Linked DNA regions of Homo sapiens. The protein of the gene in region 5 purifies or fractionates together with the protein of the main gene of each other region. This does not show direct contact. Each region holds a gene or a part of one and is shown on either strand. Other genes may lie near its edges.

What was found.
Region 1: the proteins of AKAP8 (region 5) and NPHP4 purify together in Homo sapiens (co-immunoprecipitation; one large-scale study listed by IntAct). This does not show direct contact.
Region 2: the proteins of AKAP8 (region 5) and CCND2 purify together in Homo sapiens (affinity purification with western blotting, with the first as the bait; one study listed by BioGRID). This does not show direct contact.
Region 3: the proteins of AKAP8 (region 5) and NBEAL2 purify together in Homo sapiens (tandem affinity purification; one large-scale study listed by IntAct). This does not show direct contact.
Region 4: the proteins of AKAP8 (region 5) and WRAP73 purify together in Homo sapiens (co-immunoprecipitation; one study listed by IntAct). This does not show direct contact.
Region 6: the proteins of AKAP8 (region 5) and MYO1E fractionate together in Homo sapiens (co-fractionation; one large-scale study listed by BioGRID). This does not show direct contact.

Annotation. Positions count from the first base shown.
Region 1 is NC_000001.11:5,982,426-5,985,925, reverse strand, and holds part of NPHP4 (nephrocystin-4), read left to right. Parts: intron 1-3,500. UniProt on the Homo sapiens protein: Involved in the organization of apical junctions; the function is proposed to implicate a NPHP1-4-8 module. Does not seem to be strictly required for ciliogenesis. Required for building functional cilia.
Region 2 is NC_000012.12:4,280,262-4,283,761, forward strand, and holds part of CCND2 (G1/S-specific cyclin-D2), read left to right. Parts: intron 1-3,500. UniProt on the Homo sapiens protein: Regulatory component of the cyclin D2-CDK4 (DC) complex that phosphorylates and inhibits members of the retinoblastoma (RB) protein family including RB1 and regulates the cell-cycle during G(1)/S transition.
Region 3 is NC_000003.12:47,000,166-47,003,665, forward strand, and holds part of NBEAL2 (neurobeachin-like protein 2), read left to right. Parts: coding exon 1-239; intron 240-835; coding exon 836-1,014; intron 1,015-1,113; coding exon 1,114-1,273; intron 1,274-1,523; coding exon 1,524-1,661; intron 1,662-1,754; coding exon 1,755-2,123; intron 2,124-2,205; coding exon 2,206-2,355; coding exon of another isoform or gene 2,356-2,369; intron 2,370-2,479; coding exon 2,480-2,637; intron 2,638-2,791; coding exon 2,792-2,916; intron 2,917-3,008; coding exon 3,009-3,144; intron 3,145-3,500. UniProt on the Homo sapiens protein: Probably involved in thrombopoiesis. Plays a role in the development or secretion of alpha-granules, that contain several growth factors important for platelet biogenesis.
Region 4 is NC_000001.11:3,633,104-3,636,603, reverse strand, and holds part of WRAP73 (WD repeat-containing protein WRAP73), read left to right. Parts: intron 1-573; coding exon 574-660; intron 661-1,309; coding exon 1,310-1,444; intron 1,445-1,529; coding exon 1,530-1,607; intron 1,608-3,100; coding exon 3,101-3,206; intron 3,207-3,500.
Region 5 is NC_000019.10:15,355,788-15,359,287, forward strand, and holds part of AKAP8 (A-kinase anchor protein 8), read right to left. Parts: intron 3,276-3,500; coding exon 3,180-3,275; intron 1-3,179. UniProt on the Homo sapiens protein: Anchoring protein that mediates the subcellular compartmentation of cAMP-dependent protein kinase (PKA type II).
Region 6 is NC_000015.10:59,205,372-59,208,871, forward strand, and holds part of MYO1E (unconventional myosin-Ie), read right to left. Parts: intron 3,478-3,500; coding exon 3,310-3,477; intron 3,218-3,309; exon of another isoform or gene 2,716-3,217; coding exon of another isoform or gene 1,570-2,715; exon of another isoform or gene 1,472-1,569; intron 115-1,471; coding exon 29-114; intron 1-28. Other genes in the region: LDHAL6B (L-lactate dehydrogenase A-like 6B), read left to right, coding at 1,570-2,715. UniProt on the Homo sapiens protein: Actin-based motor molecule with ATPase activity. Unconventional myosins serve in intracellular movements. Their highly divergent tails bind to membranous compartments, which are then moved relative to actin filaments.

The DNA.
Region 1 (3,500 bases), on a different chromosome or scaffold from region 5:
CCCAGTTGTAGGAACATGCAAGTGTTCTGACCATGTTGAAGCTGGGCCACGCTAAGCTCTGATGTACAGTAGGTTAAGGGTATTAAATGCATTTGAACTTATGACATTTTCAACTTAAACAGGATAGAGTCCCATCATAGGTCAAAGAGCATCTGTATTGATTTTCACTTACTCGTTTGAGTCTTATACCACCATACCCATTACCTTGGGCCTTGGCAGTATTCGGATGCAAAGTGGCCCATCAGCAAAGAGAATCTATGATTCAATGACATGGTCAGCACTTTTGACTCTGGGTAGGGTTTCTTTCTGCCCACAGTGGAGCAATTTAAAAACCCAAGTACTCTGATTTCCTGGGTTATTTGTGAGCCAGGTGGCCTTGTGCATGGCTCAGCATGGCCCGCTTTCAGCCTGGCAGTGAGGACTGCAGGGGCTGAGCTACGGGCATTCTGGCAGCTCTGTGCGTGGCTGGATGTACCACGGCCTTGGGCACACTCAGGCCCAGGCCCTGATGGCGGCACATCCATCTGTGCCCTTCAGCTGGCGGGGAACCTGCTGGACAAGCTGGTGCTTCTGTGCTGCTGCCCACGGGACACCCACACGATTGGATTGTCCTCGTGAGGCCCAGTGGCCGGTGGGAATGCGTGAGAAGGATCAGTCTTGCCATTGTCAACCCTTTTTACAGGATTTGGCTTGGCAAGGCCGTTTTCCTCTGCAGCTGGGAGAGTGATATTCACATATATTCAGTTGTTGGAGCCCCGGGTCTGTGACTAATTTACTATTATTAAATCACTGATGTTCTATATCGTTCAATTCCAAGCCCTTGGATTGAGCACCTGCTGTGTCTTTGCCACTGTGGTAGGTACTGTGGTGGCTGCTGCTTTTGTAGCTTTACTTCTAGCACTTCACTGTGTTCATTCACTTAATCCTCAGAGCAGCTCTATGAGGCTGCCACCACCTTACTCCCGTTTTATAGACGAGCAGCAGCACCTGCTAATTAAGAGTGAAGCCAGCTGCCCAGGGCGACGGCTTTAGCTGGGATGCCACCCTCCTGGTCTGGCTCAGCCGCCTTCCAGAAGCTCACAGGATAGTTGATAGCCCTTCCCTCTTTCCTAGGAGTTTTGCAAAGGAAATTTTATTTCCCCATTTCATTTTATTTTTATTTGTGAAAAGGTAATGCACGTAGTTCAAAGTTGACAAGGATGCAGAGGAAAAGTGAATCATCCCATGGCATCCCCAGGCACCTGGTGTATCACCCTAGATACAGTGTGTTTTCGTACAACTTTCTTAAATTCTAAGCAAATACAAGTAAATATACCTACATTTATTTTTCCTTTTTAAAATGCAAATGGTACTTCCTGTATTCCGTTCTGTACCATTCTTTCTTTTTTTTTGAGATGAAGTCTCACTCTGTCACCCAGGCTGTAGTGCAGTGGTGTGATCTCAGCTCACTGTAAACCTCCTCCCCCTGAGCTCAAGTGATCCTCCTTCCTCAGCCTCCCAAGTAGCTGGGACCACAGATGTGCGCCACCATGCCCGGCTAAGTTTTTGTATTTTTGGTAGAGTCGGGGTTTCACCATGTTGGCCAGGCTGGTTTCAAACTCCTGAGCTCAGGTGATCTGCCCGCCTCTACCTCCCAAAGTGCTGGGATTACAGGTGTAGCCACATGCCCGGCACTGTACCTTGCTTTTCAAAAAAATTCAGGCAGTATGTCTTATCGATCATTCATGTTATTACATGAAGAAAATTTTATTGTTCTTAAGACCGCAAGGTGTTTCTTTATATGAATGAGCCATCATTTATTGAGTGAGGCCGTGATTGATGAACATTTAGACTTTTCCCAGTCATTTGCTATTATAGGCACTGCTACAGTGAATAACCTCATTTTTTTCATGTACAGATATGTCTGTAGAATAATTCCTAGAAGTGGAATTCCTGATCCAAAGTCGTATGTTAAAAGTTATTTAAAACCCAATTACATGTTGTTTACAAAAAAGTGCACTCTAAGCATAAAGACGTAAACAGGTTGCAGGTAGAAGGGTGGAAAAATATAAACCATGTACATACTAAGCAAAGAAAGCTTTGCATCTATACTAGTATCAGAAAAAGTAGATTTCAAGGTGAAGAGTATTCCCAGAAATAAAGGGGCACCTCATAAAGACAGTGATCATCAAGGAAACGTAACAATCTCTAAATGTGTATGCACTTGTGTTAGGGGCCTCCAAGACCACCTCCCAGGTTTGAAGAGTCTCTAAGAGGACTCACATGACTCAGCATGTAGTCATACTCTCAGCTAAGGTTGATCCAGCAGAAGGATACAGAGCAAGATCAGCAAAGGGAGGAGGCATATGGGGGATGTCTGAGGGAAGAGGGTACAAGCTTCCAAGAGTCCTCTCTCAGTTGAGTCACACAGGATGCGTTTGATTCCTCCAGCAATGAATTGTAACAACACACGTGAAATGTTGTGTAGCATGTCCAAAATTCCAGACTCTCAGAAGGGAAACACGTGTTTAGCATAAGCCACAGTACATAAACAGTTTAGGCACAGTGAGCTCCTCTTACCAGTTAGGTGGTAGGAACTCTCTTGAAATCTAAGTTCCCAGACTCCAGCAAAAGGGCAGACTTCTAAGCTGGTCTTTCAAAGCATAACAGTAAGGTCTGTTCTGATAACTCTTTTGTACAAAAGAGCAAAATTGGACAGAACTAAAGGGAACTATATTCAGATTCATAATCATGGTTGGAGACTTTTAACTCTTCTTCTCTCAATTATTGAAAAAACAGATAGATCAGAACACTCATAGGGATTTGGAAGCTCTGAAGAATACCGTCAATCACCTTGTCATCTCTTAACGCTACTCCCAAGAAAGCTAGAGTACACATTCTTCCCAAGTGTACCATCAATCACCCTGTCATCTCTTAAACACCACTCCCAACAAAGCTAGAGAACACGTTCTTCCCAAGTTCATATGGAACAGTCACCAAGATAGACCGTATGCTGGGCCATTAAAATGTCCCAATAAGCTTCAAAGGACCCAAATTATAGAGTATGTTTATCGACTACTGTGCTTTTAAGTTAGAAATAAATAATATGAGATCTAGAAAATCCTCAAATAGGAAATTAACATACTGGATCAAAGAAGAATTAATAGGGAAATTAGAAAATAATTTGAACTGAGTAATGGAAGAAAATATACAGATTTATAGGATATAACTAATACAGTTCTTTGAGGGAAATGTATAGCTTTACATGACTATATTAGAAAAGAAGAAGGTATAAAATCAGTGACGTCTGTTTCCTCCTTAACAACCTAAATAAAGGAACAAATTAGATACAAACCTAAATAAAGGAACAAATTAGATACAAAGTAACTAGAAGGAAGGAAATGGTAAATACAGTTATGCATGGTTCCTTGACAGTGCCGACACATTCTGAGAAATGGTGTTAGGTGATTTTGTCATTGTGCAAACATCATAGGATGTACTTACGTAAACCTAGAGGGTAG
Region 2 (3,500 bases), on a different chromosome or scaffold from region 5:
TGTTCCGACTAAAGTGGATATGATGGCTTTCCTTTTCTGGCTGCCCTTACGTGTTTCTAGCAGGACCTGTGTGTTCTGCACTTGCAGGCTTGAGTGTGGAGTCCTCCCGGCCCCCTGCCTGTTCATCTAGGGCACAGGTTTCCCCTTGCTGGTTTTCTGTAGTCCTGTTCTCCTGGATGCAGGCCAGGCCTCATGGCGTGCACATGCGCCCTGTGCCCCTTGGTGGGAGAGTCCGTTATCCTTCCTGCAGCCCTGGGGGCGGTTCTTAGGACCCCTGTGGACCCCTGCTGCCTTTTGGATAGTGGTCACTCTGGCTTCCTTCCCTTCTGCTGTCTGGCCCGGGCCCGAGAGGTCAGTCCTCCAGTGACCTGTCATTTTGTCTCCCAGGCTCGGCTGTCTCCTTCCTCTCTCATCATGATTCACTGTGGGGGAGGGGTCAGCCAGTTCTTTCTCTCTGGCCCAAGGACAGCTGACCCCCGACCCTAAACTCCCCCACTGCCCAGCTGTTGATAGCCAGAGCTCTGCTCAACACTGTCTCTTGACTAACAGATCTTTTGGGGTCTAACTGCCCCTTCCTCCTCTCTGATCTCTGATTGGGGTAGGGGTGCTGGGTGGAGTTACCGGGGTGTGGGCAGATCCCCAGATTCCGTCTAGACCCATTCTCGAAAACCGGGGATCCCATCCCCCACCCGTGGCCTTCTTGCCCAGATCTTTGGGCTGGCTGCCAGCTCCGGGGCCAGAGTAGGGAGCCTGGGATTCAGAGACTGAGGACAGAGGCCCAGAGGGATACAGAGGCAGTTATAAAGACTGTGTTTTGGGGGCCTTGAACTAGCTTTGGTCAGGGACTAGGAAAGGACACCCCCAAACCACATGAAAATGGTGTGCTAGGCACTAAGCCTCAGGCGTTGACAGGGCAGAGCACAGGTAGGTCCTCGGCAGTTTCCTGGGTCTGGAAAGGAGGGGCCTGTATCGAAAGAAGTTGCTTTCCCTCATCTGCACTTGGGTTTGTGCAACTGACTGAGTCACATAGAATCCTGGCTGCGTGGAGTTTTACAACAGTCGGCCTCACAGTACAAACACCGAAGGCCGCTTTTCTTGAAGGAAACACCTTCCATGGAGAGGCGATTGTGCATTGTGGGGCCAGGGTGTGATGAATGGGCAAGGACCCAGGACTCTGGCCAGTAGCGGGCACAGAGTGACTGAGAGGCAGAGGTAGGAGATGCAGATTCCCCAACCCGAGCTGTTGCCCTCACCTGCTCCTCAAATCGCACACTTCCCTCCTTTTCTCGCAGTCCTGGATGTTCCGTCCTGGAGCTGATGAAACACCTGCGGCCAGGGTCTCGGAGGTCCACAGTGGGTGGAGGGTGGGGGTCCCGAGAGATGGCCGCCAACCCTCAGGCCGTGCAGCTATTTGATGGGAAAAGCTGGTTGTGAAAGAGCTGGCAGTGGTTCTGCAGTGTGTGGGGAGCGTATTTGTGTGTGAAAGGGGAAGGGAGAGCAGGAGAACATAGAGGGGCCGCGTAAGTGTGGCGAAGTGGCGGTCTTGCTTTATGGGGCTCTGGATTAAGATGGTGGCAAGGCGGAGAGGAGCCCTCCTTCCTTCCCTGCTCAGCCTAAAATGGCTTCTGGAAGAGCAAGGGCCGCAAGCTGCTGGTATCCCTCTGCAGCAGGTCCTGGGCAGTGCAGGCATGGGTGGGTTGGGCGGGGGATCTTCCTGACTACAGCTCCTAGCATTCCTGTTCCTGGAGTTTCCAAAACTGGGGAAGCAGAACTGAGCCATAGCTTCCCTGGTTGCCGCTCTGCTGATAGAACACCCAGGTCTGCAAGCGAGGAAAGAAGGCCATTGGAGATGACCTGGGTTCGCACTCTGGCACTGGGAGATTGTTGAGATGTGATACCATGCTCGGTGGATGATTCCAGTTAGTCTAGCAGAGCCAATGGCATTGAGTTTACACCTGGCACCGGGTAGGGGGAGGTGCTCACCCTCCCTCTCCAGGCACCCACATCCCCTCTTTCTTCACTAGAAGCCCACCCTAAGATGCTGCACCTTGGTATTTGTGCCACACACGGTAGCCACCCCCAGGCCTCCCCACGCCAAGGCCAGAGCCCCATTGTTGACTAGAACCCATTGTGCTGTCCTAGCCCCTTCCCTGGCTTTACCTACAGGTGTTCCCTCAGATTCCATCGCCAAGTGAGAGGGAGACAGTGGTGGCCCAGAGAAGTTCGATGACTTGGCCCTTGATCTAGAGTGGGAGATTTCGCCTTGATGGGTGCTGGGAAGGAAGAATGGAAACCCGTCTTTCCATCTGCAAGTCTCTGAGCTACCCCTGAAGCCGCGAGGTCATGGGACTGAGGGGGAGTCGTTAGCATGCCCTGTGGGGACAAGCAGCCAGGCAGTGTGGTGCTTGCCATCGCTCTTCCCTCTGGCTGTAAGATGAATGGGTAGCAGGCTGCTCATCGCCCTCCAACCAGCCCCCTCCCCAGCTCCTCCCAGCAGGCCTTGCAGTTGCATGGGCATTCCCTTGCCATGGCAGCCCTGCCCCACAAGGACAGGGTATGCTGGTCCTCTTATGGGGGTGGCAGATGAGGTGCGTGCCCAGTGACGTCCCTGGCCTGTGAACACTCTGGTTCTGGCCCTTTGAACTTCCACCTGACTGCAGGTTGGAGAAGAGAGATGGGGAAAGCCTGACCTGGCCTTCCCTTTCTTCTTCAGCGTCAGAGTGCGTATCTCTCTCCCCCTATTGGTGAACAGAAGCAAAGCCATCACCCCTGCACCCCAAGACCTCGGCCACCATAGCCAAAATGATGGGTGCTAAATGTACTGGGCAGGACCATGTATTCCGTGGTTTTAAACTTACTTAGCTCTGAACTCTTTATTTGGTAAAATCCTACCAAGAAGTGCAGATACCAAGTTGATGAAATGGAGCACTTCTCAGGGCCCATGCCCAGGTGAGGGAGCCCAGCGGGACCCCCAGAGGCTCCCAGGGCATCCTTGGGAGGATAAGCCTTTTGTGCTTGCTGGTGCCGGGGCTGCGGCTGGGACCCAATTCCTTTGATTCCTGAGCCAGAGCGCCACCTTTGGGGCTCTTCTCCCACTTCCGACGTGAAAGGCTGCCCTGTCCTCCTGAGTGGTATATGGGAGGTGACTTTGAGGAGCTGGTCAGCTTCCAGTAAGTTACGAAGAGCTCTGCATCCAGAGTCTCAAAGTCTCATCCGGATCCCAGGCCCAACACTCACAGTGAGTGACATCAGCCAGATCACTTCATCTCCCAAGACTTCATTGATTCACCTGTAAAAGGAGATGTTTGAAACAGATGAATTTCAAGCTCCTTTTTATTAATACCTCACCATCATCACCGCCGTCATAAGCAAGCATGCAGCCCACAGCAGAGCTGCCCCTGGCGCCTGTGGGTCCAGCTGGGATTCCCCTAAGGTGTGTCCTTTGCCTCCACCATTTTGCCAGGAGGGAGGCGGGAATGTCGGGTGTTCCTGGTTATCTG
Region 3 (3,500 bases), on a different chromosome or scaffold from region 5:
TTGACCTGGGCCTGGAACGGTCTAGTGTAGGATCAGGCAACACTGCTGGTGGTGGCGGCAGCAGTGGGACTCTTACTCCAGCCAGCCAGCCCGGCACTCCTTCGCCACTGGATGGGCCGCGGCCCTTTCCTGCTGCTCCTGGCCGCCACAGCTCCAGTCTCTCCAATGTGCTGGAGGACGGCAGCCTCCCGGAGCCCACCATTAGCGGGGATGATACCTCGAACACCAGCAACCCACAGGTGAGGTGGGCCCACCCTCTGCCACTGCATGGTACCCAAGGGAGGACACTTCTGGTACACAGGGCTGGCAGTGTAGCCTCTCCAAAGGTGTGGCCCTGTCTGACCAGGGTTGCAGCCACTGGTCAGGCCTATTGCTGTCCCCTCATAGCTCTCATCTGCAGTTGTGTTCCCAGAGGGCTCCTGGAACAGGGTGAGTCATGATGAGCCACAGTGGGTGACACCAGCCAGGCTTCAGAAGGGCCCTCAAGAGAGCCTGTAGGGCAGACACCTCACAGGGTCCAAGGGCAGCAAACTCCAAAGGCCCTGCCCTGGGCTTCTGGGTTTGGGGATGGGCCTCTGCTTGTTCTATGTGAACTGCCTCATCTCCTCTTGGGAGTCTGGCAAGACCCCAGGATTCTGCCTGGAACTCAGGTAGTAGTTGAGACCCCTATACCATTCTTCCAGGCCCTTAGTGCCAGGCTCACTGTTAGCCAAATGCTCTGACTCCTGGGTGGCTACCCCAGGAGGGGTGCTGAGTGGGGATGGGTGGGCGTCAGCCTGATTCCCTCCCTTAGCCGCCCACAACCCACGCCCACACCACCCACCTGTGCCCACAGCAAACCTCTGAGGAAGAGTTGTGCAATCTGCTCACCAACGTGCTGTTCTCGGTGACGTGGCGTGGCGTGGAAGGCAGCGATGAGGCTGCCTGGCGGGAGCGTGGCCAGGTTTTCTCAGTGCTCACCCAGCTGGGGGCCTCAGCCACACTTGTGCGCCCACCAGACTGCATCAAGCGCAGGTGAGAGGGAAAGTCTGGAGGGGGAGGGGCTTCAGGAAGCCTCGGGGGAAGGAGAGAAGATAGTCAGGTAGACCCTTGAGTTCCCCACTCACCCGCCAGCCTCCTGGAGATGATGCTGGAGTCAGCCCTGACCGACATCAAAGAGGCCCCCGTGGGGGTCCTGGCCAGCCTCACCCAGCAAGCGCTTTGGCTGCTGCGTCTGCTGCAGGACTTCCTGTGTGCTGAAGGCCATGGTAACCAGGAACTGTGGAGTGAGAAGGTGCGACCCCTCAGAGAGGCGTGAGCCACATGAACACTCATGTTCATGCAAGCCTGCAGGGATCTGGTCTGGGAGGTGGATGGGTACACGTGCGCAGGTGTGGGTGCATCAGCATGAATGCCTGTGAGTGTGGACTTGCCTGTGTGCACAAACCCTACCTGGCCCCCAGCGCAAACTTTACTTTGCTCCCTTTCCATGGACTCCTGGCCTCCCCTGGTGATGTCTGTTGGGAACCTGTTTTCTGTGGCAGCTCTTTGAAGGTGTATGCAGCCTACTTGATCGCCTGGGAGCCTGGCCCCACCTGGCCAACGGCACAGCTGATCTCCGTGAGATGGCGCAGATTGGCCTACGGCTTGTACTTGGCTACATCCTGCTGGAAGACCCACAGGTGAGCACAGGGTGAGCATGGGGGCAGGGGGCGTGTGAGATGTCGGGAGCTCCAAGAGTGGCTGGGTGCCACTCATCTCTCTTGCGCCCACAGCTGCATGCCCAGGCCTACGTGAGATTGCACATGCTGCTACAGACTGCAGTGCCAGCCCGCCGCGAGGAGGCCTGCTATGTGCTCTCCAAGCTGGAGGCTGCACTGGGGCGGGTGCTGAACACCTCTTCCTTGGAGTCAGCCACTGATGAGGCAGGGTCCCCACTTGCAGCTGCAGCAGCTGCAGCAGCTGCAGAGCGCTGCTCCTGGCTGGTGCCACTGGTGCGCACGCTGCTAGACCGTGCCTATGAGCCGCTGGGGCTGCAGTGGGGACTGCCCTCCCTGCCACCCACCAATGGCAGCCCCACCTTCTTTGAAGACTTCCAGGCTTTTTGTGCCACACCCGAATGGCGCCACTTCATCGACAAACAGGTGCCTGGAGGTTGGGGCCCAGGAAGAGGAGTGGGGGCTGGGGCCCACATCGAGCACTGTTCTCCTCTGCCCAATCCTCCAGGTACAGCCAACCATGTCCCAGTTCGAAATGGACACGTATGCTAAGAGCCACGACCTTATGTCAGGTTTCTGGAATGCCTGCTATGACATGCTTATGAGCAGTGGGCAGCGGCGCCAGTGGGAGCGCGCCCAGAGTCGTCGGGCCTTCCAGGTGTGCCACCCGGGGTAAGGGATGGGAAACTGCTCCACACATGCACCCAGGAGATGACTGACAATGTGGAGAAACGGGTAGGGCAGGCAGCAGCCAGGGGACTGACCTATTACCCCCACCCCAGGAGCTGGTGCTGGAACCTGCGCAGAGGCGGGCGCGCCTGGAGGGGCTACGCTACACGGCAGTGCTGAAGCAGCAGGCAACGCAGCACTCCATGGCCCTGCTGCACTGGGGGGCGCTGTGGCGCCAGCTCGCCAGCCCATGTGGGGCCTGGGCGCTGAGGTGGGCCGGGCTTGGGGCAGGGTCGCTGTGGAGGGGTGGGGCTTGGGAGGGAGGGAGCCACCTGGAGCCCCAGACTGCCTTTGGGGTGAGGCCAGGGAGGGATGGGGGTGTCTACAGCCTTCTACCGACCCATGACCTGGGGGACATTCTGCAGGGACACTCCCATCCCCCGCTGGAAACTGTCCAGCGCCGAGACATATTCACGCATGCGTCTGAAGCTGGTGCCCAACCATCACTTCGACCCTCACCTGGAAGCCAGCGCTCTCCGAGACAATCTGGGTGAGGGAGTGTGCTGAGATGGGTCCACCCAACTCGATTGTCCCGTCTCCTGTCCTGCCTTGCTTCTGCTGAGTACCCTTGGCCCCTTGCAGGTGAGGTTCCCCTGACACCCACCGAGGAGGCCTCACTGCCTCTGGCAGTGACCAAAGAGGCCAAAGTGAGCACCCCACCCGAGTTGCTGCAGGAGGACCAGCTCGGCGAGGACGAGCTGGCTGAGCTGGAGACCCCGTGAGTGGGGCCCTGGAGAGATTGGACTGGTGTGGTGGGCAAGGGGTCTGCTCCAGTGTGTGCATGCCTCTGTGGGATCAACTCCCTGAGTGTGTCCTCTTCTGCTGCCCGACTACGTCCCCCTGAAGGGACTGTCCAAAGCCAGATGGTGAGTGGGAGAGTCTCCTAACAGGGCTGAGAGTTGCTCTTTTAACAGCCAGGCACCTGAGGACAGCACTGAGAAACACAAACCAGAGCAGGAAGGGGGCCCAGGGAGTGGGCAGGGGCTGGGTGAGGGGAGCAGGGGACAAGGGTTGGCATCCTGGCAAAATATTCAGAAGCCCAGTGGGTGGCAGGTGGGGGACAGGGGCTGGGAC
Region 4 (3,500 bases), on a different chromosome or scaffold from region 5:
ACATATGAACACGATTCCAGCACAATCCATCATTAAGGTAGAGCAACCTCTGGAATGCTGTCAGAGTGCAGAACCCGGGATCCAGGCAGTGCTCTGGAAGGGACTTGTCTGAGCTGGGTCTAAAGGAGTGAGCCTGGCCAGGCAAGGAAAGGTGAGGGGGAGAGTGTGCACATGAGTGCAGGTGCGGGGAGACCAAGCCACCTTCGGGGGCTGGCCAGGCAAGGAAAGGTGAGGGGGAGAGTGTGCACACGAGTGCAGGCGCGGGGAGACCAAGCCGCCCTCGGGGGCTGGCCAGGCAAGGAAAGGTGAGGGGGAGAGTGTGCACACGAGTGCAGGCGCGGGGAGACCAAGCCGCCCTTGGGGGCTGGCCAGGCACTGACGCTGGCATCTGTGGCGGTGCAGCCCCAGCAGCAGCTCTACAGGGATTTCATGCATTTCCAGGATAGAGCTGTTGAGATTTTGTCAATTTCTATATAAGGAAATTAAGTGCGTTAAGAACATCAGTCATAAATGCAATTATTTATTTACGAAAATATTTTCCAAATTTAATGTTTCCCCCCCTTCCTTTGGAAGCATTTTGATACGGACACCCAGGATCTCACAGGGATTGAGTGGGCCCCAAACGGCTGTGTGCTGGCAGTGTGGGACACCTGCTTGGAGGTATGAAGATGACCAGGTGACATGTTTGCTTTCGAGAGCTTTTCCCGGAATTTCATGCTTTCTGAATGCTGCAATATAGTTTGCTTTATCTTATTTCAGATAACAAGTTGAGCTTTGTTTTAAAAGACAGGGTCTTGCTCTGTCACCCAGGCTGGAGTGCAGTGGTGTGATCACGGCCCACTGCAGCCTCGACCTCCTGGACTCAAGTGATCCTCCTACCTCAGCCTCCCAAGTAGCTGGGACCACAAGCATGCACCACCACGCCCGGCTAATTTTTGTATTCTTTGTAGAGATGGGGTTTCACCGTGTTGCCCAGACTGCTCTTGAACTTCTGTGTTCAAGTGATCTGCCAGCTTCGGCCTCCCAAAGTGCTGGGATTACAGGCGTGAGCCACAGTGCCCGGCCGAGTTGAACTTTTATCAGCGAGCCATTAGGTTGACCTCCCAATTTCCCCTTTTTCCTCATGCTCTCACTGCCTCTCCGTGACTATCTCAGTACTAGCTGGCAGTTCCAGCTTTTCCACGGCCACGCGGACAGTCCTGCCAGCTTTGTGCTATCTGCACCAATGTCACTCTGCAGCACCCGCGTCTGTGGTGTGTTCCTGGCGACGGGGGTGTATTCATTATTAACTGAAATGTCTCATCTGCAGTACAAGATTCTGCTGTACTCATTGGATGGCCGGTTGTTGTCCACGTACAGCGCTTACGAGTGGTCCCTGGGCATCAAGTCTGTGGCCTGGAGCCCCAGCAGTCAGTTCCTGGCAGTTGGGAGCTATGATGGAAAGGTGGGAACCAGTGCAGGGCACTCAGGAAGTCCGACCGCCCAGCGGGCCGGGCCCTGCCTCACCTGTGCATGGTTTCCTTCCTCAGGTGCGCATCCTTAATCACGTGACTTGGAAAATGATCACGGAGTTTGGGCATCCTGCAGCCATTAATGATCCCAAGATAGTAAGTCTGGAACACGTGTTTCTGCCTGAGCAGGCTGTTGGGGAGGGCGGTGGGAAACTGCTCCTTCACTTTGCTTTCTTGATTGTGGTTTATTATTTAACCGGGCACTTCCATCACCGTAAACTTGCTACTGTGACATTTCACGCGTCTGGCCCTGCCCTGGCCTTTGTTCTTCCTCCTCCACGCTGCCCAAAGGGTCTGAAGTGGGCCTTGCCCTGGCCTGTCCTCTGCCGCTGCCACCCCAGTCCAGTTTTCTCCTTTGTGGTCTGTCTGGATGCAGATCCCTGTGCTGTACAGAGTGGCCAGGGTCTCCTGCCCCCAAACACTGGGCATCTGCTGTCGTGCCAGGCACTGTGCTCTGGGCCGCAGCCAGAGAAGAAGAGACAGACCCCTGCACTTGCAGAGTGCGGCTGGAGAGACAGGGAAGGGGCTGGAGAGCTGGGTGTCTCCACGGGGTGGCAGGGAGTGGCCACCAGCGAGGGATCGCAGGCACAGATGCTGCACCAGTGATCAGGGACTCGGGGAGGGAGCGTTCCAGGCCAAGGGAACAGGAAATGCAAAGGCCCCGAGGAGTGGGCCACGCATCCATGTGTGCAGCGGGCACTGCGCTGGGAGCCAGAGACAAATGCTGCCCTCCTGGTGTTGACCTGTAACCGACAGAGCTGAGTGAAAGGCGGCTTGGATTCGATGAAGAGGCCAGTGAGTGGCTGGGGCTGCGCATGCCAGATCAGCCACTGCCGGGGATGCATCCTGGAGGGGTGTTTAAGTGAAGACCAGGAGGAGGAGCTGCGCGGTGTCTGGGCAGAAAGGGTGTTTCAGGCAGAGGGGCCTCCTGACGTGGCCAGTGGCTTGTGTGGCTGGAGGCCAGGGTGTCTGGACAGGTGAGCCCGAGCAGGGCTGGCCACACAGGTCCTGAAGGTTTGCCTGTGATTCCTGCATTCTCCAAATCCCTTCGCCACACAGCAGCAGAGCATGCTTTAAAGGCATGAACCAGGCCAGGTGACTCCCTTACCTGGGGCTCTTCAGGGGCGTAGGGGCTGCCCGCCTTCCACTGAGCCTGGGCCGCTGTCCTTTGCTTGCCAGGCTCTCGGGCACAGATGCCCCCACCTCGGGTCTGTGTCTGCTGCTCCCGGGGCCTCTGCTGTGTTGGTGCAAGTGTTCTCTGTATCCTCTTATCACGGAGGGAAGGCTGAGCCCACTCCCTTGCTGGATGATGGTGGCTGCAGTGGTCTCCCGTCTGTAATCACAGGGCACACATTTGCTGCCTGTGTCTCAAAGGGTGGGCTCCTCAGCAGGACACGAGAGAGGGTGGCTGGGTGATCTCAGCTCTCGGGACTGCGGGGTTCGTGCTTCCGTCTCTCCCGGTGGCAGCAGGACCAGCTGTCATGGCAGGCACACCTGTTGACCATGCGCTGTCATGGGCATTTGCCACGTCCATCCTTGGCTTCCGGGTCCCTGTCCTGAGCCGGGCGTGGCCACCTTGTGTCTTTCAGGTGGTGTATAAGGAGGCCGAGAAGAGCCCACAGCTGGGACTGGGCTGCCTCTCCTTCCCGCCGCCCCGGGCCGGGGCCGGCCCTCTCCCGAGCTCAGAGAGTAAATGTAAGTAGCACATGTGATGTCATTTGTTTTCCTTTTTTAATGCAAGATTCCTCGTTGTCCAGATAAACTTCGGATGTTCCTTATGTTTAAAAAAAAAAACTTTTTTTCCCTTCCATGCTTCCAGCCAGTGTGCCCCTCAGCCTGTTGGCTGGAGGTTGACTAGGGTCTGAATTGCGCAGTGGGCCGTGAAGGTGCGGCTTCTGTTACTGAATATGAGCCCTGGAGACCCGGATCTGACAGCGGGAGCTCCGAGGGGATGTTTTTCCGGAGCTCCGAGAATGATGTTTTTCAAAG
Region 5 (3,500 bases):
GTGCAATGGCGCGATCTCAGCTCACCACAACCTCTGCCTCCTGGTTTCAAGTGATTCTCCTGCCTCAGCCTCCTGAGTAGCTGGGATTACAGGCAGGAGCCACCACGCCCGGCTAATTTTGTATTTTTAGTGGAGACGGGGTTTCACCATGTTGGGCAGACTGGTCTGGAACTCCAGACCTCAGGTGATCCGCCTGCCTTGGCCTCCCAAAATGCTGGGATTACAGGCACGAGCCACCGTGCCTGGCCTGCAATTTTTAATCAAGCATGTACCAGCGAGGAAAAGTTCACAAGCCCAGCCTTAACTTGATGTTTTTTAAAAAAGGGCATGAGGCCGGGCGTGATGGCTCACACCTGTAATCCCAGCACTTTGGGAGGCCAAGATGGGTGGATCACGAGGTCAGGAGATGGACACCATCCTGGCTAACACAGTGAAACCCCATCTCTACTAAAAATACAAAAAAAAAAATTAGCCGGGCATGGTGGCGAGCGCCTGTAGTCCCAGCTACTCGGGAGGCTGAGGCAGCAGAATGGCGTGAACCTGGGAGGCGGAGCTTGCAGTAAGTCGAGATCACGCCACTGAACTCCAGCCTGGCAGCCTGGGCGACAGAGTCAGACTCCATCTCAAAAAAATAAAATAAAATAAAATAAAGGGCATGTAATAGGAAGTTAACACTACGTAATATTTTAGTTTCATTAAGGTACAGTGGCTCACGCCTGTAATCCCAGCACTTTGGGAGGCTGGGGCTGGAGGACTGCCGGAGCTCAGGAGTTCGAGACCAGCCTGGGCAACGTGGCGAATCAAGATTCAAATCCAAGTCTGACTCCCTCAGAAGTCAAAATTCTCCTAAGTATATGATAGAAAACTATCTGTAGTCTAAAACAAGCAAACTAAAAGTTATCATTACCAGATTAGGAAACATGTTTTAAAATATGATGCTTAGGGCAAGGTGCTCACGCCTGTAACCCCAGCAATTTGGGAGGTCAAGGCGGGAGGATCACTTGAGGCCAGACCAGCATGGGCAACAGAGCAAGACTGTCTTAAAAAATTAGCCAGCATGTGGCCGGGTGCAGTGGCTCACGTCTGTAATTCCAACACTTTGGGAGGCGGAAGCAGGCAGATCACAAGGTCAGGAGATGGAGACCATCCTGGCTAACACAGTGAAACCCCATCTCTCTTTTCTTTTTTTGAGACGGAGTCTTGGTCTGTCGCCAAGGCTGGAGTGCAATGGCGCGATCTTGGCTCACTGCAACCTGCACCTCCCGGATTCAAGCAATTCACTGCCTCAGCCTCCCAAGTAGCTGGGATTACAGGTGCCCGCCACCACGCCTGGCTAATTTTTTTTTTATTTTTAGTAGAGATGGGGTTTCACCATCTTGGCCAGGCTGGTCTTGAACTCCTGACCTCGTGATGCACCCGCCTCGGCCTCCCAAAGTGCTGGGATTACAGGCGTGAGCCACCACGCCCGGCCACCCCATCCCCCTGCAAAACATTAGCCAGGCATGGTGGTGGGCGCCTGTAGTCCCAGGTACTCAGGAGGCTGAGGCAGGAGAACGGCATGAACCCAGGACACAGAGCTTGCAGTGAGCCGGGATCGCACCACTGCACTCCAGCCTGGGTGACAGAGCAAGACTCCATCTCAAAAAAAAAAAAAAAAAAAAAAAAAAAAAATTAGCCAGGTGTGGTGGTGTACTATTGCAGTCCCAGCTACCTGGCAGGCTGAGTGGGGAGGATCTCTTGAGCTCAGGAATTCGAGGCTGCAGAGAATCTCTGCAGGAATCTCTTGGCTGGGTACCAAGAGAACAAGACCCTGACTCAAAAAAAAAGACGCTTAGAAGCCTGAGCTCACACTTGACTCTGGAAACTTTTACCTTGCTTAAGCTGCAAAGGTAAAATATACATCAGTCATGTTTCCTCCCTCTTTTTTTTTTTTTTTTTTTTTTTGAGACAAGGTCTCACTCTGCCATCCAGGCTGGAGTGCAGTGGCACGATCTTGGCTCACTGCAACCTCCGCCTCCTGAGTAGCTGGGACCACAGGCGCATGCCACCACGCCTGGCTAATTTATGTATTTTTTGTACAGACAGGGTTTCACCATGTTGTCCGGGCTGGTCTTGAACTCCTGAACTCAAAGTGATCCGCCCACCCCAGCCTCCCAAAGTACTGGGATTACAGGTGTGAGCCACCACGCCCGGCCCAGTCATGTTTCTTCAATTGGTTATTTAGATTCTGTGCCTTTAATAGATGGAACTGTCAAATATGGAAGTGTTTAGTAACTGAGAGGAGGGCAAAGGTCCTGAAGTCAGGTTGTGGGCTGGGACTTAGCCACCTGCCCCAAATGCTAAAGTCCTGGGATGAACACTGAGCAAAATGGGTTTCACAAGGAAGAACTGGGAGCTCTTCCAACCAGCCTTCTCTCCATGAGCACCCACTTTGGGACTTCGATATGCTGCTCCCATCATGAAGGCTCTGGTTCTTCACTACCCCTCACCTTCAACCTCACTGTCAGTTGGCTCTATCAATGAAATCTCTTTTTAGCTTCTCTCCTGGAAAATTCTCATGTACCTTGGATTCTTTTTTTTTTTTTGAAATGGGGTCTCACTCTGTCACCTGGGCTGGAGTGTAGTGGCGCAATCGTTAACTCCTCTAACTCCTGAGCTCAGGGATCCTCCTGCCTCAGCCTCCCAAACTATTGGCATTACAGGCATGAGCCATAATTCCCGGTTCCCCGCTTTCCTTTATTTTCAAGACCAGTCTTGCTATGTTACCCAGGCTGAAGTGCAGTGGTAACACCATCACTCACTGTAGCCTCAAATTCCTGGGCTCAAGCAATCCTCCCATCCCAGCTTCCCGAGTAGGGCTAGCCTTGGGTTTTTCTTAAAAAATCACCTAACCATCATTTGCTCAGAATTTTAAGGCTAAACAATCAGGATTTTTCATGGTAAAAATCCATTACGCACTGATTAATCAAGCAGCGCCACATCCCCAGAGTCCCCAGGCAAGCACTGACTCATTAGAAATCCCAGTTGTCATGTTCCTGAGCTTGATGCATTCCAGTGTCCCTCAACTGTCAAAAGACTCAGAAATGCTAAATGCTGCACTCTGGATTCAACTCCCTGCTCCTGGGGTTCATCTTCCCTTTTGAAAGCTTTTCCTGTCTGTGGTACTTGCAAGCACAAACCTTGAGGTATTTTTCCAGCATCTTCACTATATGTCTGTTGTTCAAAACACTCTTAGCCACATGGAGACTGGTTTTCTTGAACTGTTCAGCAGCCAACTGCAAAGGGAACCAAATGTGAGCTCTTAAAAATGGCAAAGATTAAGGAAGAGAATAAACCAGCCAGGCTCTGCCGAGTCATCCTGAGATCAGCCCTATGCAGAGAAGCGAATCTCAAAACGCCAGCCTCCAAGAATAGAAGGCTCCAGAGACTGTGCAACCAAGACTAACAAACTGGAAAAGCTAGGCAATCTTAAGAGATAAATGCAAAGATGCACCACTGAT
Region 6 (3,500 bases), on a different chromosome or scaffold from region 5:
CCTGTCAGCTATGGCAAAACATACTTACAGCTCGCTGCTCTGCATAAGCTCGATGAGATCCATAAAAAGCACATCCCGGTTCCTTTCACAAAAGCCATCCATGTCATAGGATACCTGGCCAAGAATGGAAAGAAATCGAATTTCATTGAACAAAATGTAATTAATTGAACAAAATCATTTATTGAACAAAAAATCTAATTTCACCAAACAAAAAACCAAAGCTGTCATGGCTACCCTCACCACAACATGTGGATTTCCAGATGTTGCATTTGGGATTTCATTGTGCACTGTCACAGGAAGGCTGTGCACGTCTTACTTGTTAGCTGACTTAGTGGGGAAGGCCTGCAGATGCTGATGAGTATCTGGCTGCCTGGATGGCCCAGCTGATCCGTAATCAGAACTCCAGCTCTCAAGTCCCCATACCCCTTCTTCAGTGGATCCATAGGGGTGTCTAAGTGACATACTCAATACTTTTCCTAAATTTTAGCTAAGCCAGAGCAAAAGTGAAGCCCCTCATGCTCAGTAATTCACTGCAATGAGCCATGTCATCTGAGGCTTTGCAGTTTCTCCCAGAAGTGGTATCAAAGTTGCACCAATCTGGCCAGAAACTCATGCTCAGATACTCTGTTTAACAAGAGATCAGCTGGGATGATGGATGAGACCAGGGGATTTCCATAGCACTAGGAAGTCCCCAAGACCACGACCTCAACTTAACTTTTTTATCATCAGCAGCCCCACACAGCCTGGCATCCAGTAGGCACCCAATACTGATGGGCTTTATAAGAACACCAAAAGTGCACTCTGGGCCTTGATTTATACTACCAGTAGGCATGGGGAGACAAGGAATGCCAGTCTGTGATTCCAGCAAGAGGCAAGACGAAAATCCATTTATTCAGCAGCTAATACATGTAGCAGGGTGATTCATTTTCCAAAAATATGCAGTAGTATGCTGAGATTTAGTGCTGGAGTGACTCCCAGCCGGCCCCTACCCTGCTGAAGCCCCAGCCGACTGTCCCAGGGTGGGTCCTGGCCAGGACTGGCACCAAGGCAGTGGAATCCTTTCAAAATAGGCCTCCAGCGCCATAGACCAGAAAGCAGGCGCCCAATTCTGGGACACTGGGAGATGGTGCAGGCAGCCACCAGTACGCAAAGCATAGAGCCCTATCCTTCCTGGCAGGGTCACGGTTCAGAAAACGTAACCTTATTTTCATCTGTAGTTAACAGAAGCATGTTTCCTCAGCATTCATATTAAAAATAAAAAACTAGTAATTCCAGGGATCTCGGTTAGCCTCTTAAGCATGTCAACTATTGATAATACTCTTAGCAAAACTAACTCCAGAAATCACTTGCTAGAGAAGCAGCCCTTCACTGCCTTAGTCTGAGCACCCACGGAAAGCACGTGTCGGAGACTCTGGCAAGGCCCGCGCAGCCGCAGTAGAGGGCCAGGGGGCGGGGCACGCGCACCTGCCGTAGAGTGCTGAAGGTCCTGCCAACGGCTCTCTTGGCGTCTCAACGTTCGGATCAGCAGCTTTTTTCCATTCTCTCTCTCCACTTCTTCAGTGAGCAGCCATGAGTTGGACTGTGCCTGTTGTGCGGGCCAGCCAGAGAGTGAGCTCGGTGGGAGCGAATTTCCTATGCCTGGGGATGGCCCTGTGTCCGCGTCAAGCAACGCGCATCCCGCTCAACGGCACCTGGCTCTTCACCCCCGTGAGCAAGATGGCGACTGTGAAGAGTGAGCTTATTGAGCGTTTCACTTCCGAGAAGCCCGTTCATCACAGTAAGGTCTCCATCATAGGAACTGGATCGGTGGGCATGGCCTGCGCTATCAGCATCTTATTAAAAGGCTTGAGTGATGAACTTGCCCTTGTGGATCTTGATGAAGACAAACTGAAGGGTGAGACGATGGATCTTCAACATGGCAGCCCTTTCACGAAAATGCCAAATATTGTTTGTAGCAAAGATTACTTTGTCACAGCAAACTCCAACCTAGTGATTATCACAGCAGGTGCACGCCAAGAAAAGGGAGAAACGCGCCTTAATTTAGTCCAGCGAAATGTGGCCATCTTCAAGTTAATGATTTCCAGTATTGTCCAGTACAGCCCCCACTGCAAACTGATTATTGTTTCCAATCCAGTGGATATCTTAACTTATGTAGCTTGGAAGTTGAGTGCATTTCCCAAAAACCGTATTATTGGAAGCGGCTGTAATCTGGATACTGCTCGTTTTCGTTTCTTGATTGGACAAAAGCTTGGTATCCATTCTGAAAGCTGCCATGGATGGATCCTCGGAGAGCATGGAGACTCAAGTGTTCCTGTGTGGAGTGGAGTGAACATAGCTGGTGTCCCTTTGAAGGATCTGAACTCTGATATAGGAACTGATAAAGATCCTGAGCAATGGAAAAATGTCCACAAAGAAGTGACTGCAACTGCCTATGAGATTATTAAAATGAAAGGTTATACTTCTTGGGCCATTGGCCTATCTGTGGCCGATTTAACAGAAAGTATTTTGAAGAATCTTAGGAGAATACATCCAGTTTCCACCATAATTAAGGGCCTCTATGGAATAGATGAAGAAGTATTCCTCAGTATTCCTTGTATCCTGGGAGAGAACGGTATTACCAACCTTATAAAGATAAAGCTGACCCCTGAAGAAGAGGCCCATCTGAAAAAAAGTGCAAAAACACTCTGGGAAATTCAGAATAAGCTTAAGCTTTAAAGTTGCCTAAAACTACCATTCCGAAATTATTGAAGAGATCATAGATACAGGATTATATAACGAAATTTTGAATAAACTTGAATTCCTAAAAGATGGAAACAGGAAAGTAGGTAGAGTGATTTTCCTATTTATTTAGTCCTCCAGCTCTTTTATTGAGCATCCACGTGCTGGACGATACTTATTTACAATTCCTAAGTATTTTTGGTACCTCTGATGTAGCAGCACTTGCCATGTTATATATATGTAGTTGGCATTTGGTTCCCAAAAAGTAGGATGTAGGTATTTATTGTGTTCTAGAAATTCCGACTCTTTTCATTAGATATATGCTATTTCTTTCATTCTTGCTGGTTTATACCTATGTTCATTTATATGCTGTAAAAAAGTAGTAGCTTCTTCTACAATGTAAAAATAAATGTACATACAAAAAAATGCAGTAGTATATACAATCTTTTGTTTTGCTTCCTTTGATAGTTAATAAATTCCGTTTGTTGAATCAATAAAATACGGCGAGCCATATGATTTGCTTCATGAGAAACCAGATCACAAACCCAAAGGCTTAAAACAGATAGACATTAAAATGGATATTGGCCATACCTTCCCAGCATAATGATGAATGATGAAGCCTTGGTTCCAACTGTTGAAGTGCTCATGACTCCCAATCTGCATCTGAAGTTTCTGGAGCAGCGTCTGATCTGCCCCCTCACCCACCGCATGCATCGTGGCGCACACGTCATCCAGGATGCTCATGATGCCAGGAGGGTTCTGATGGGAGCAAGAAGGCAAGG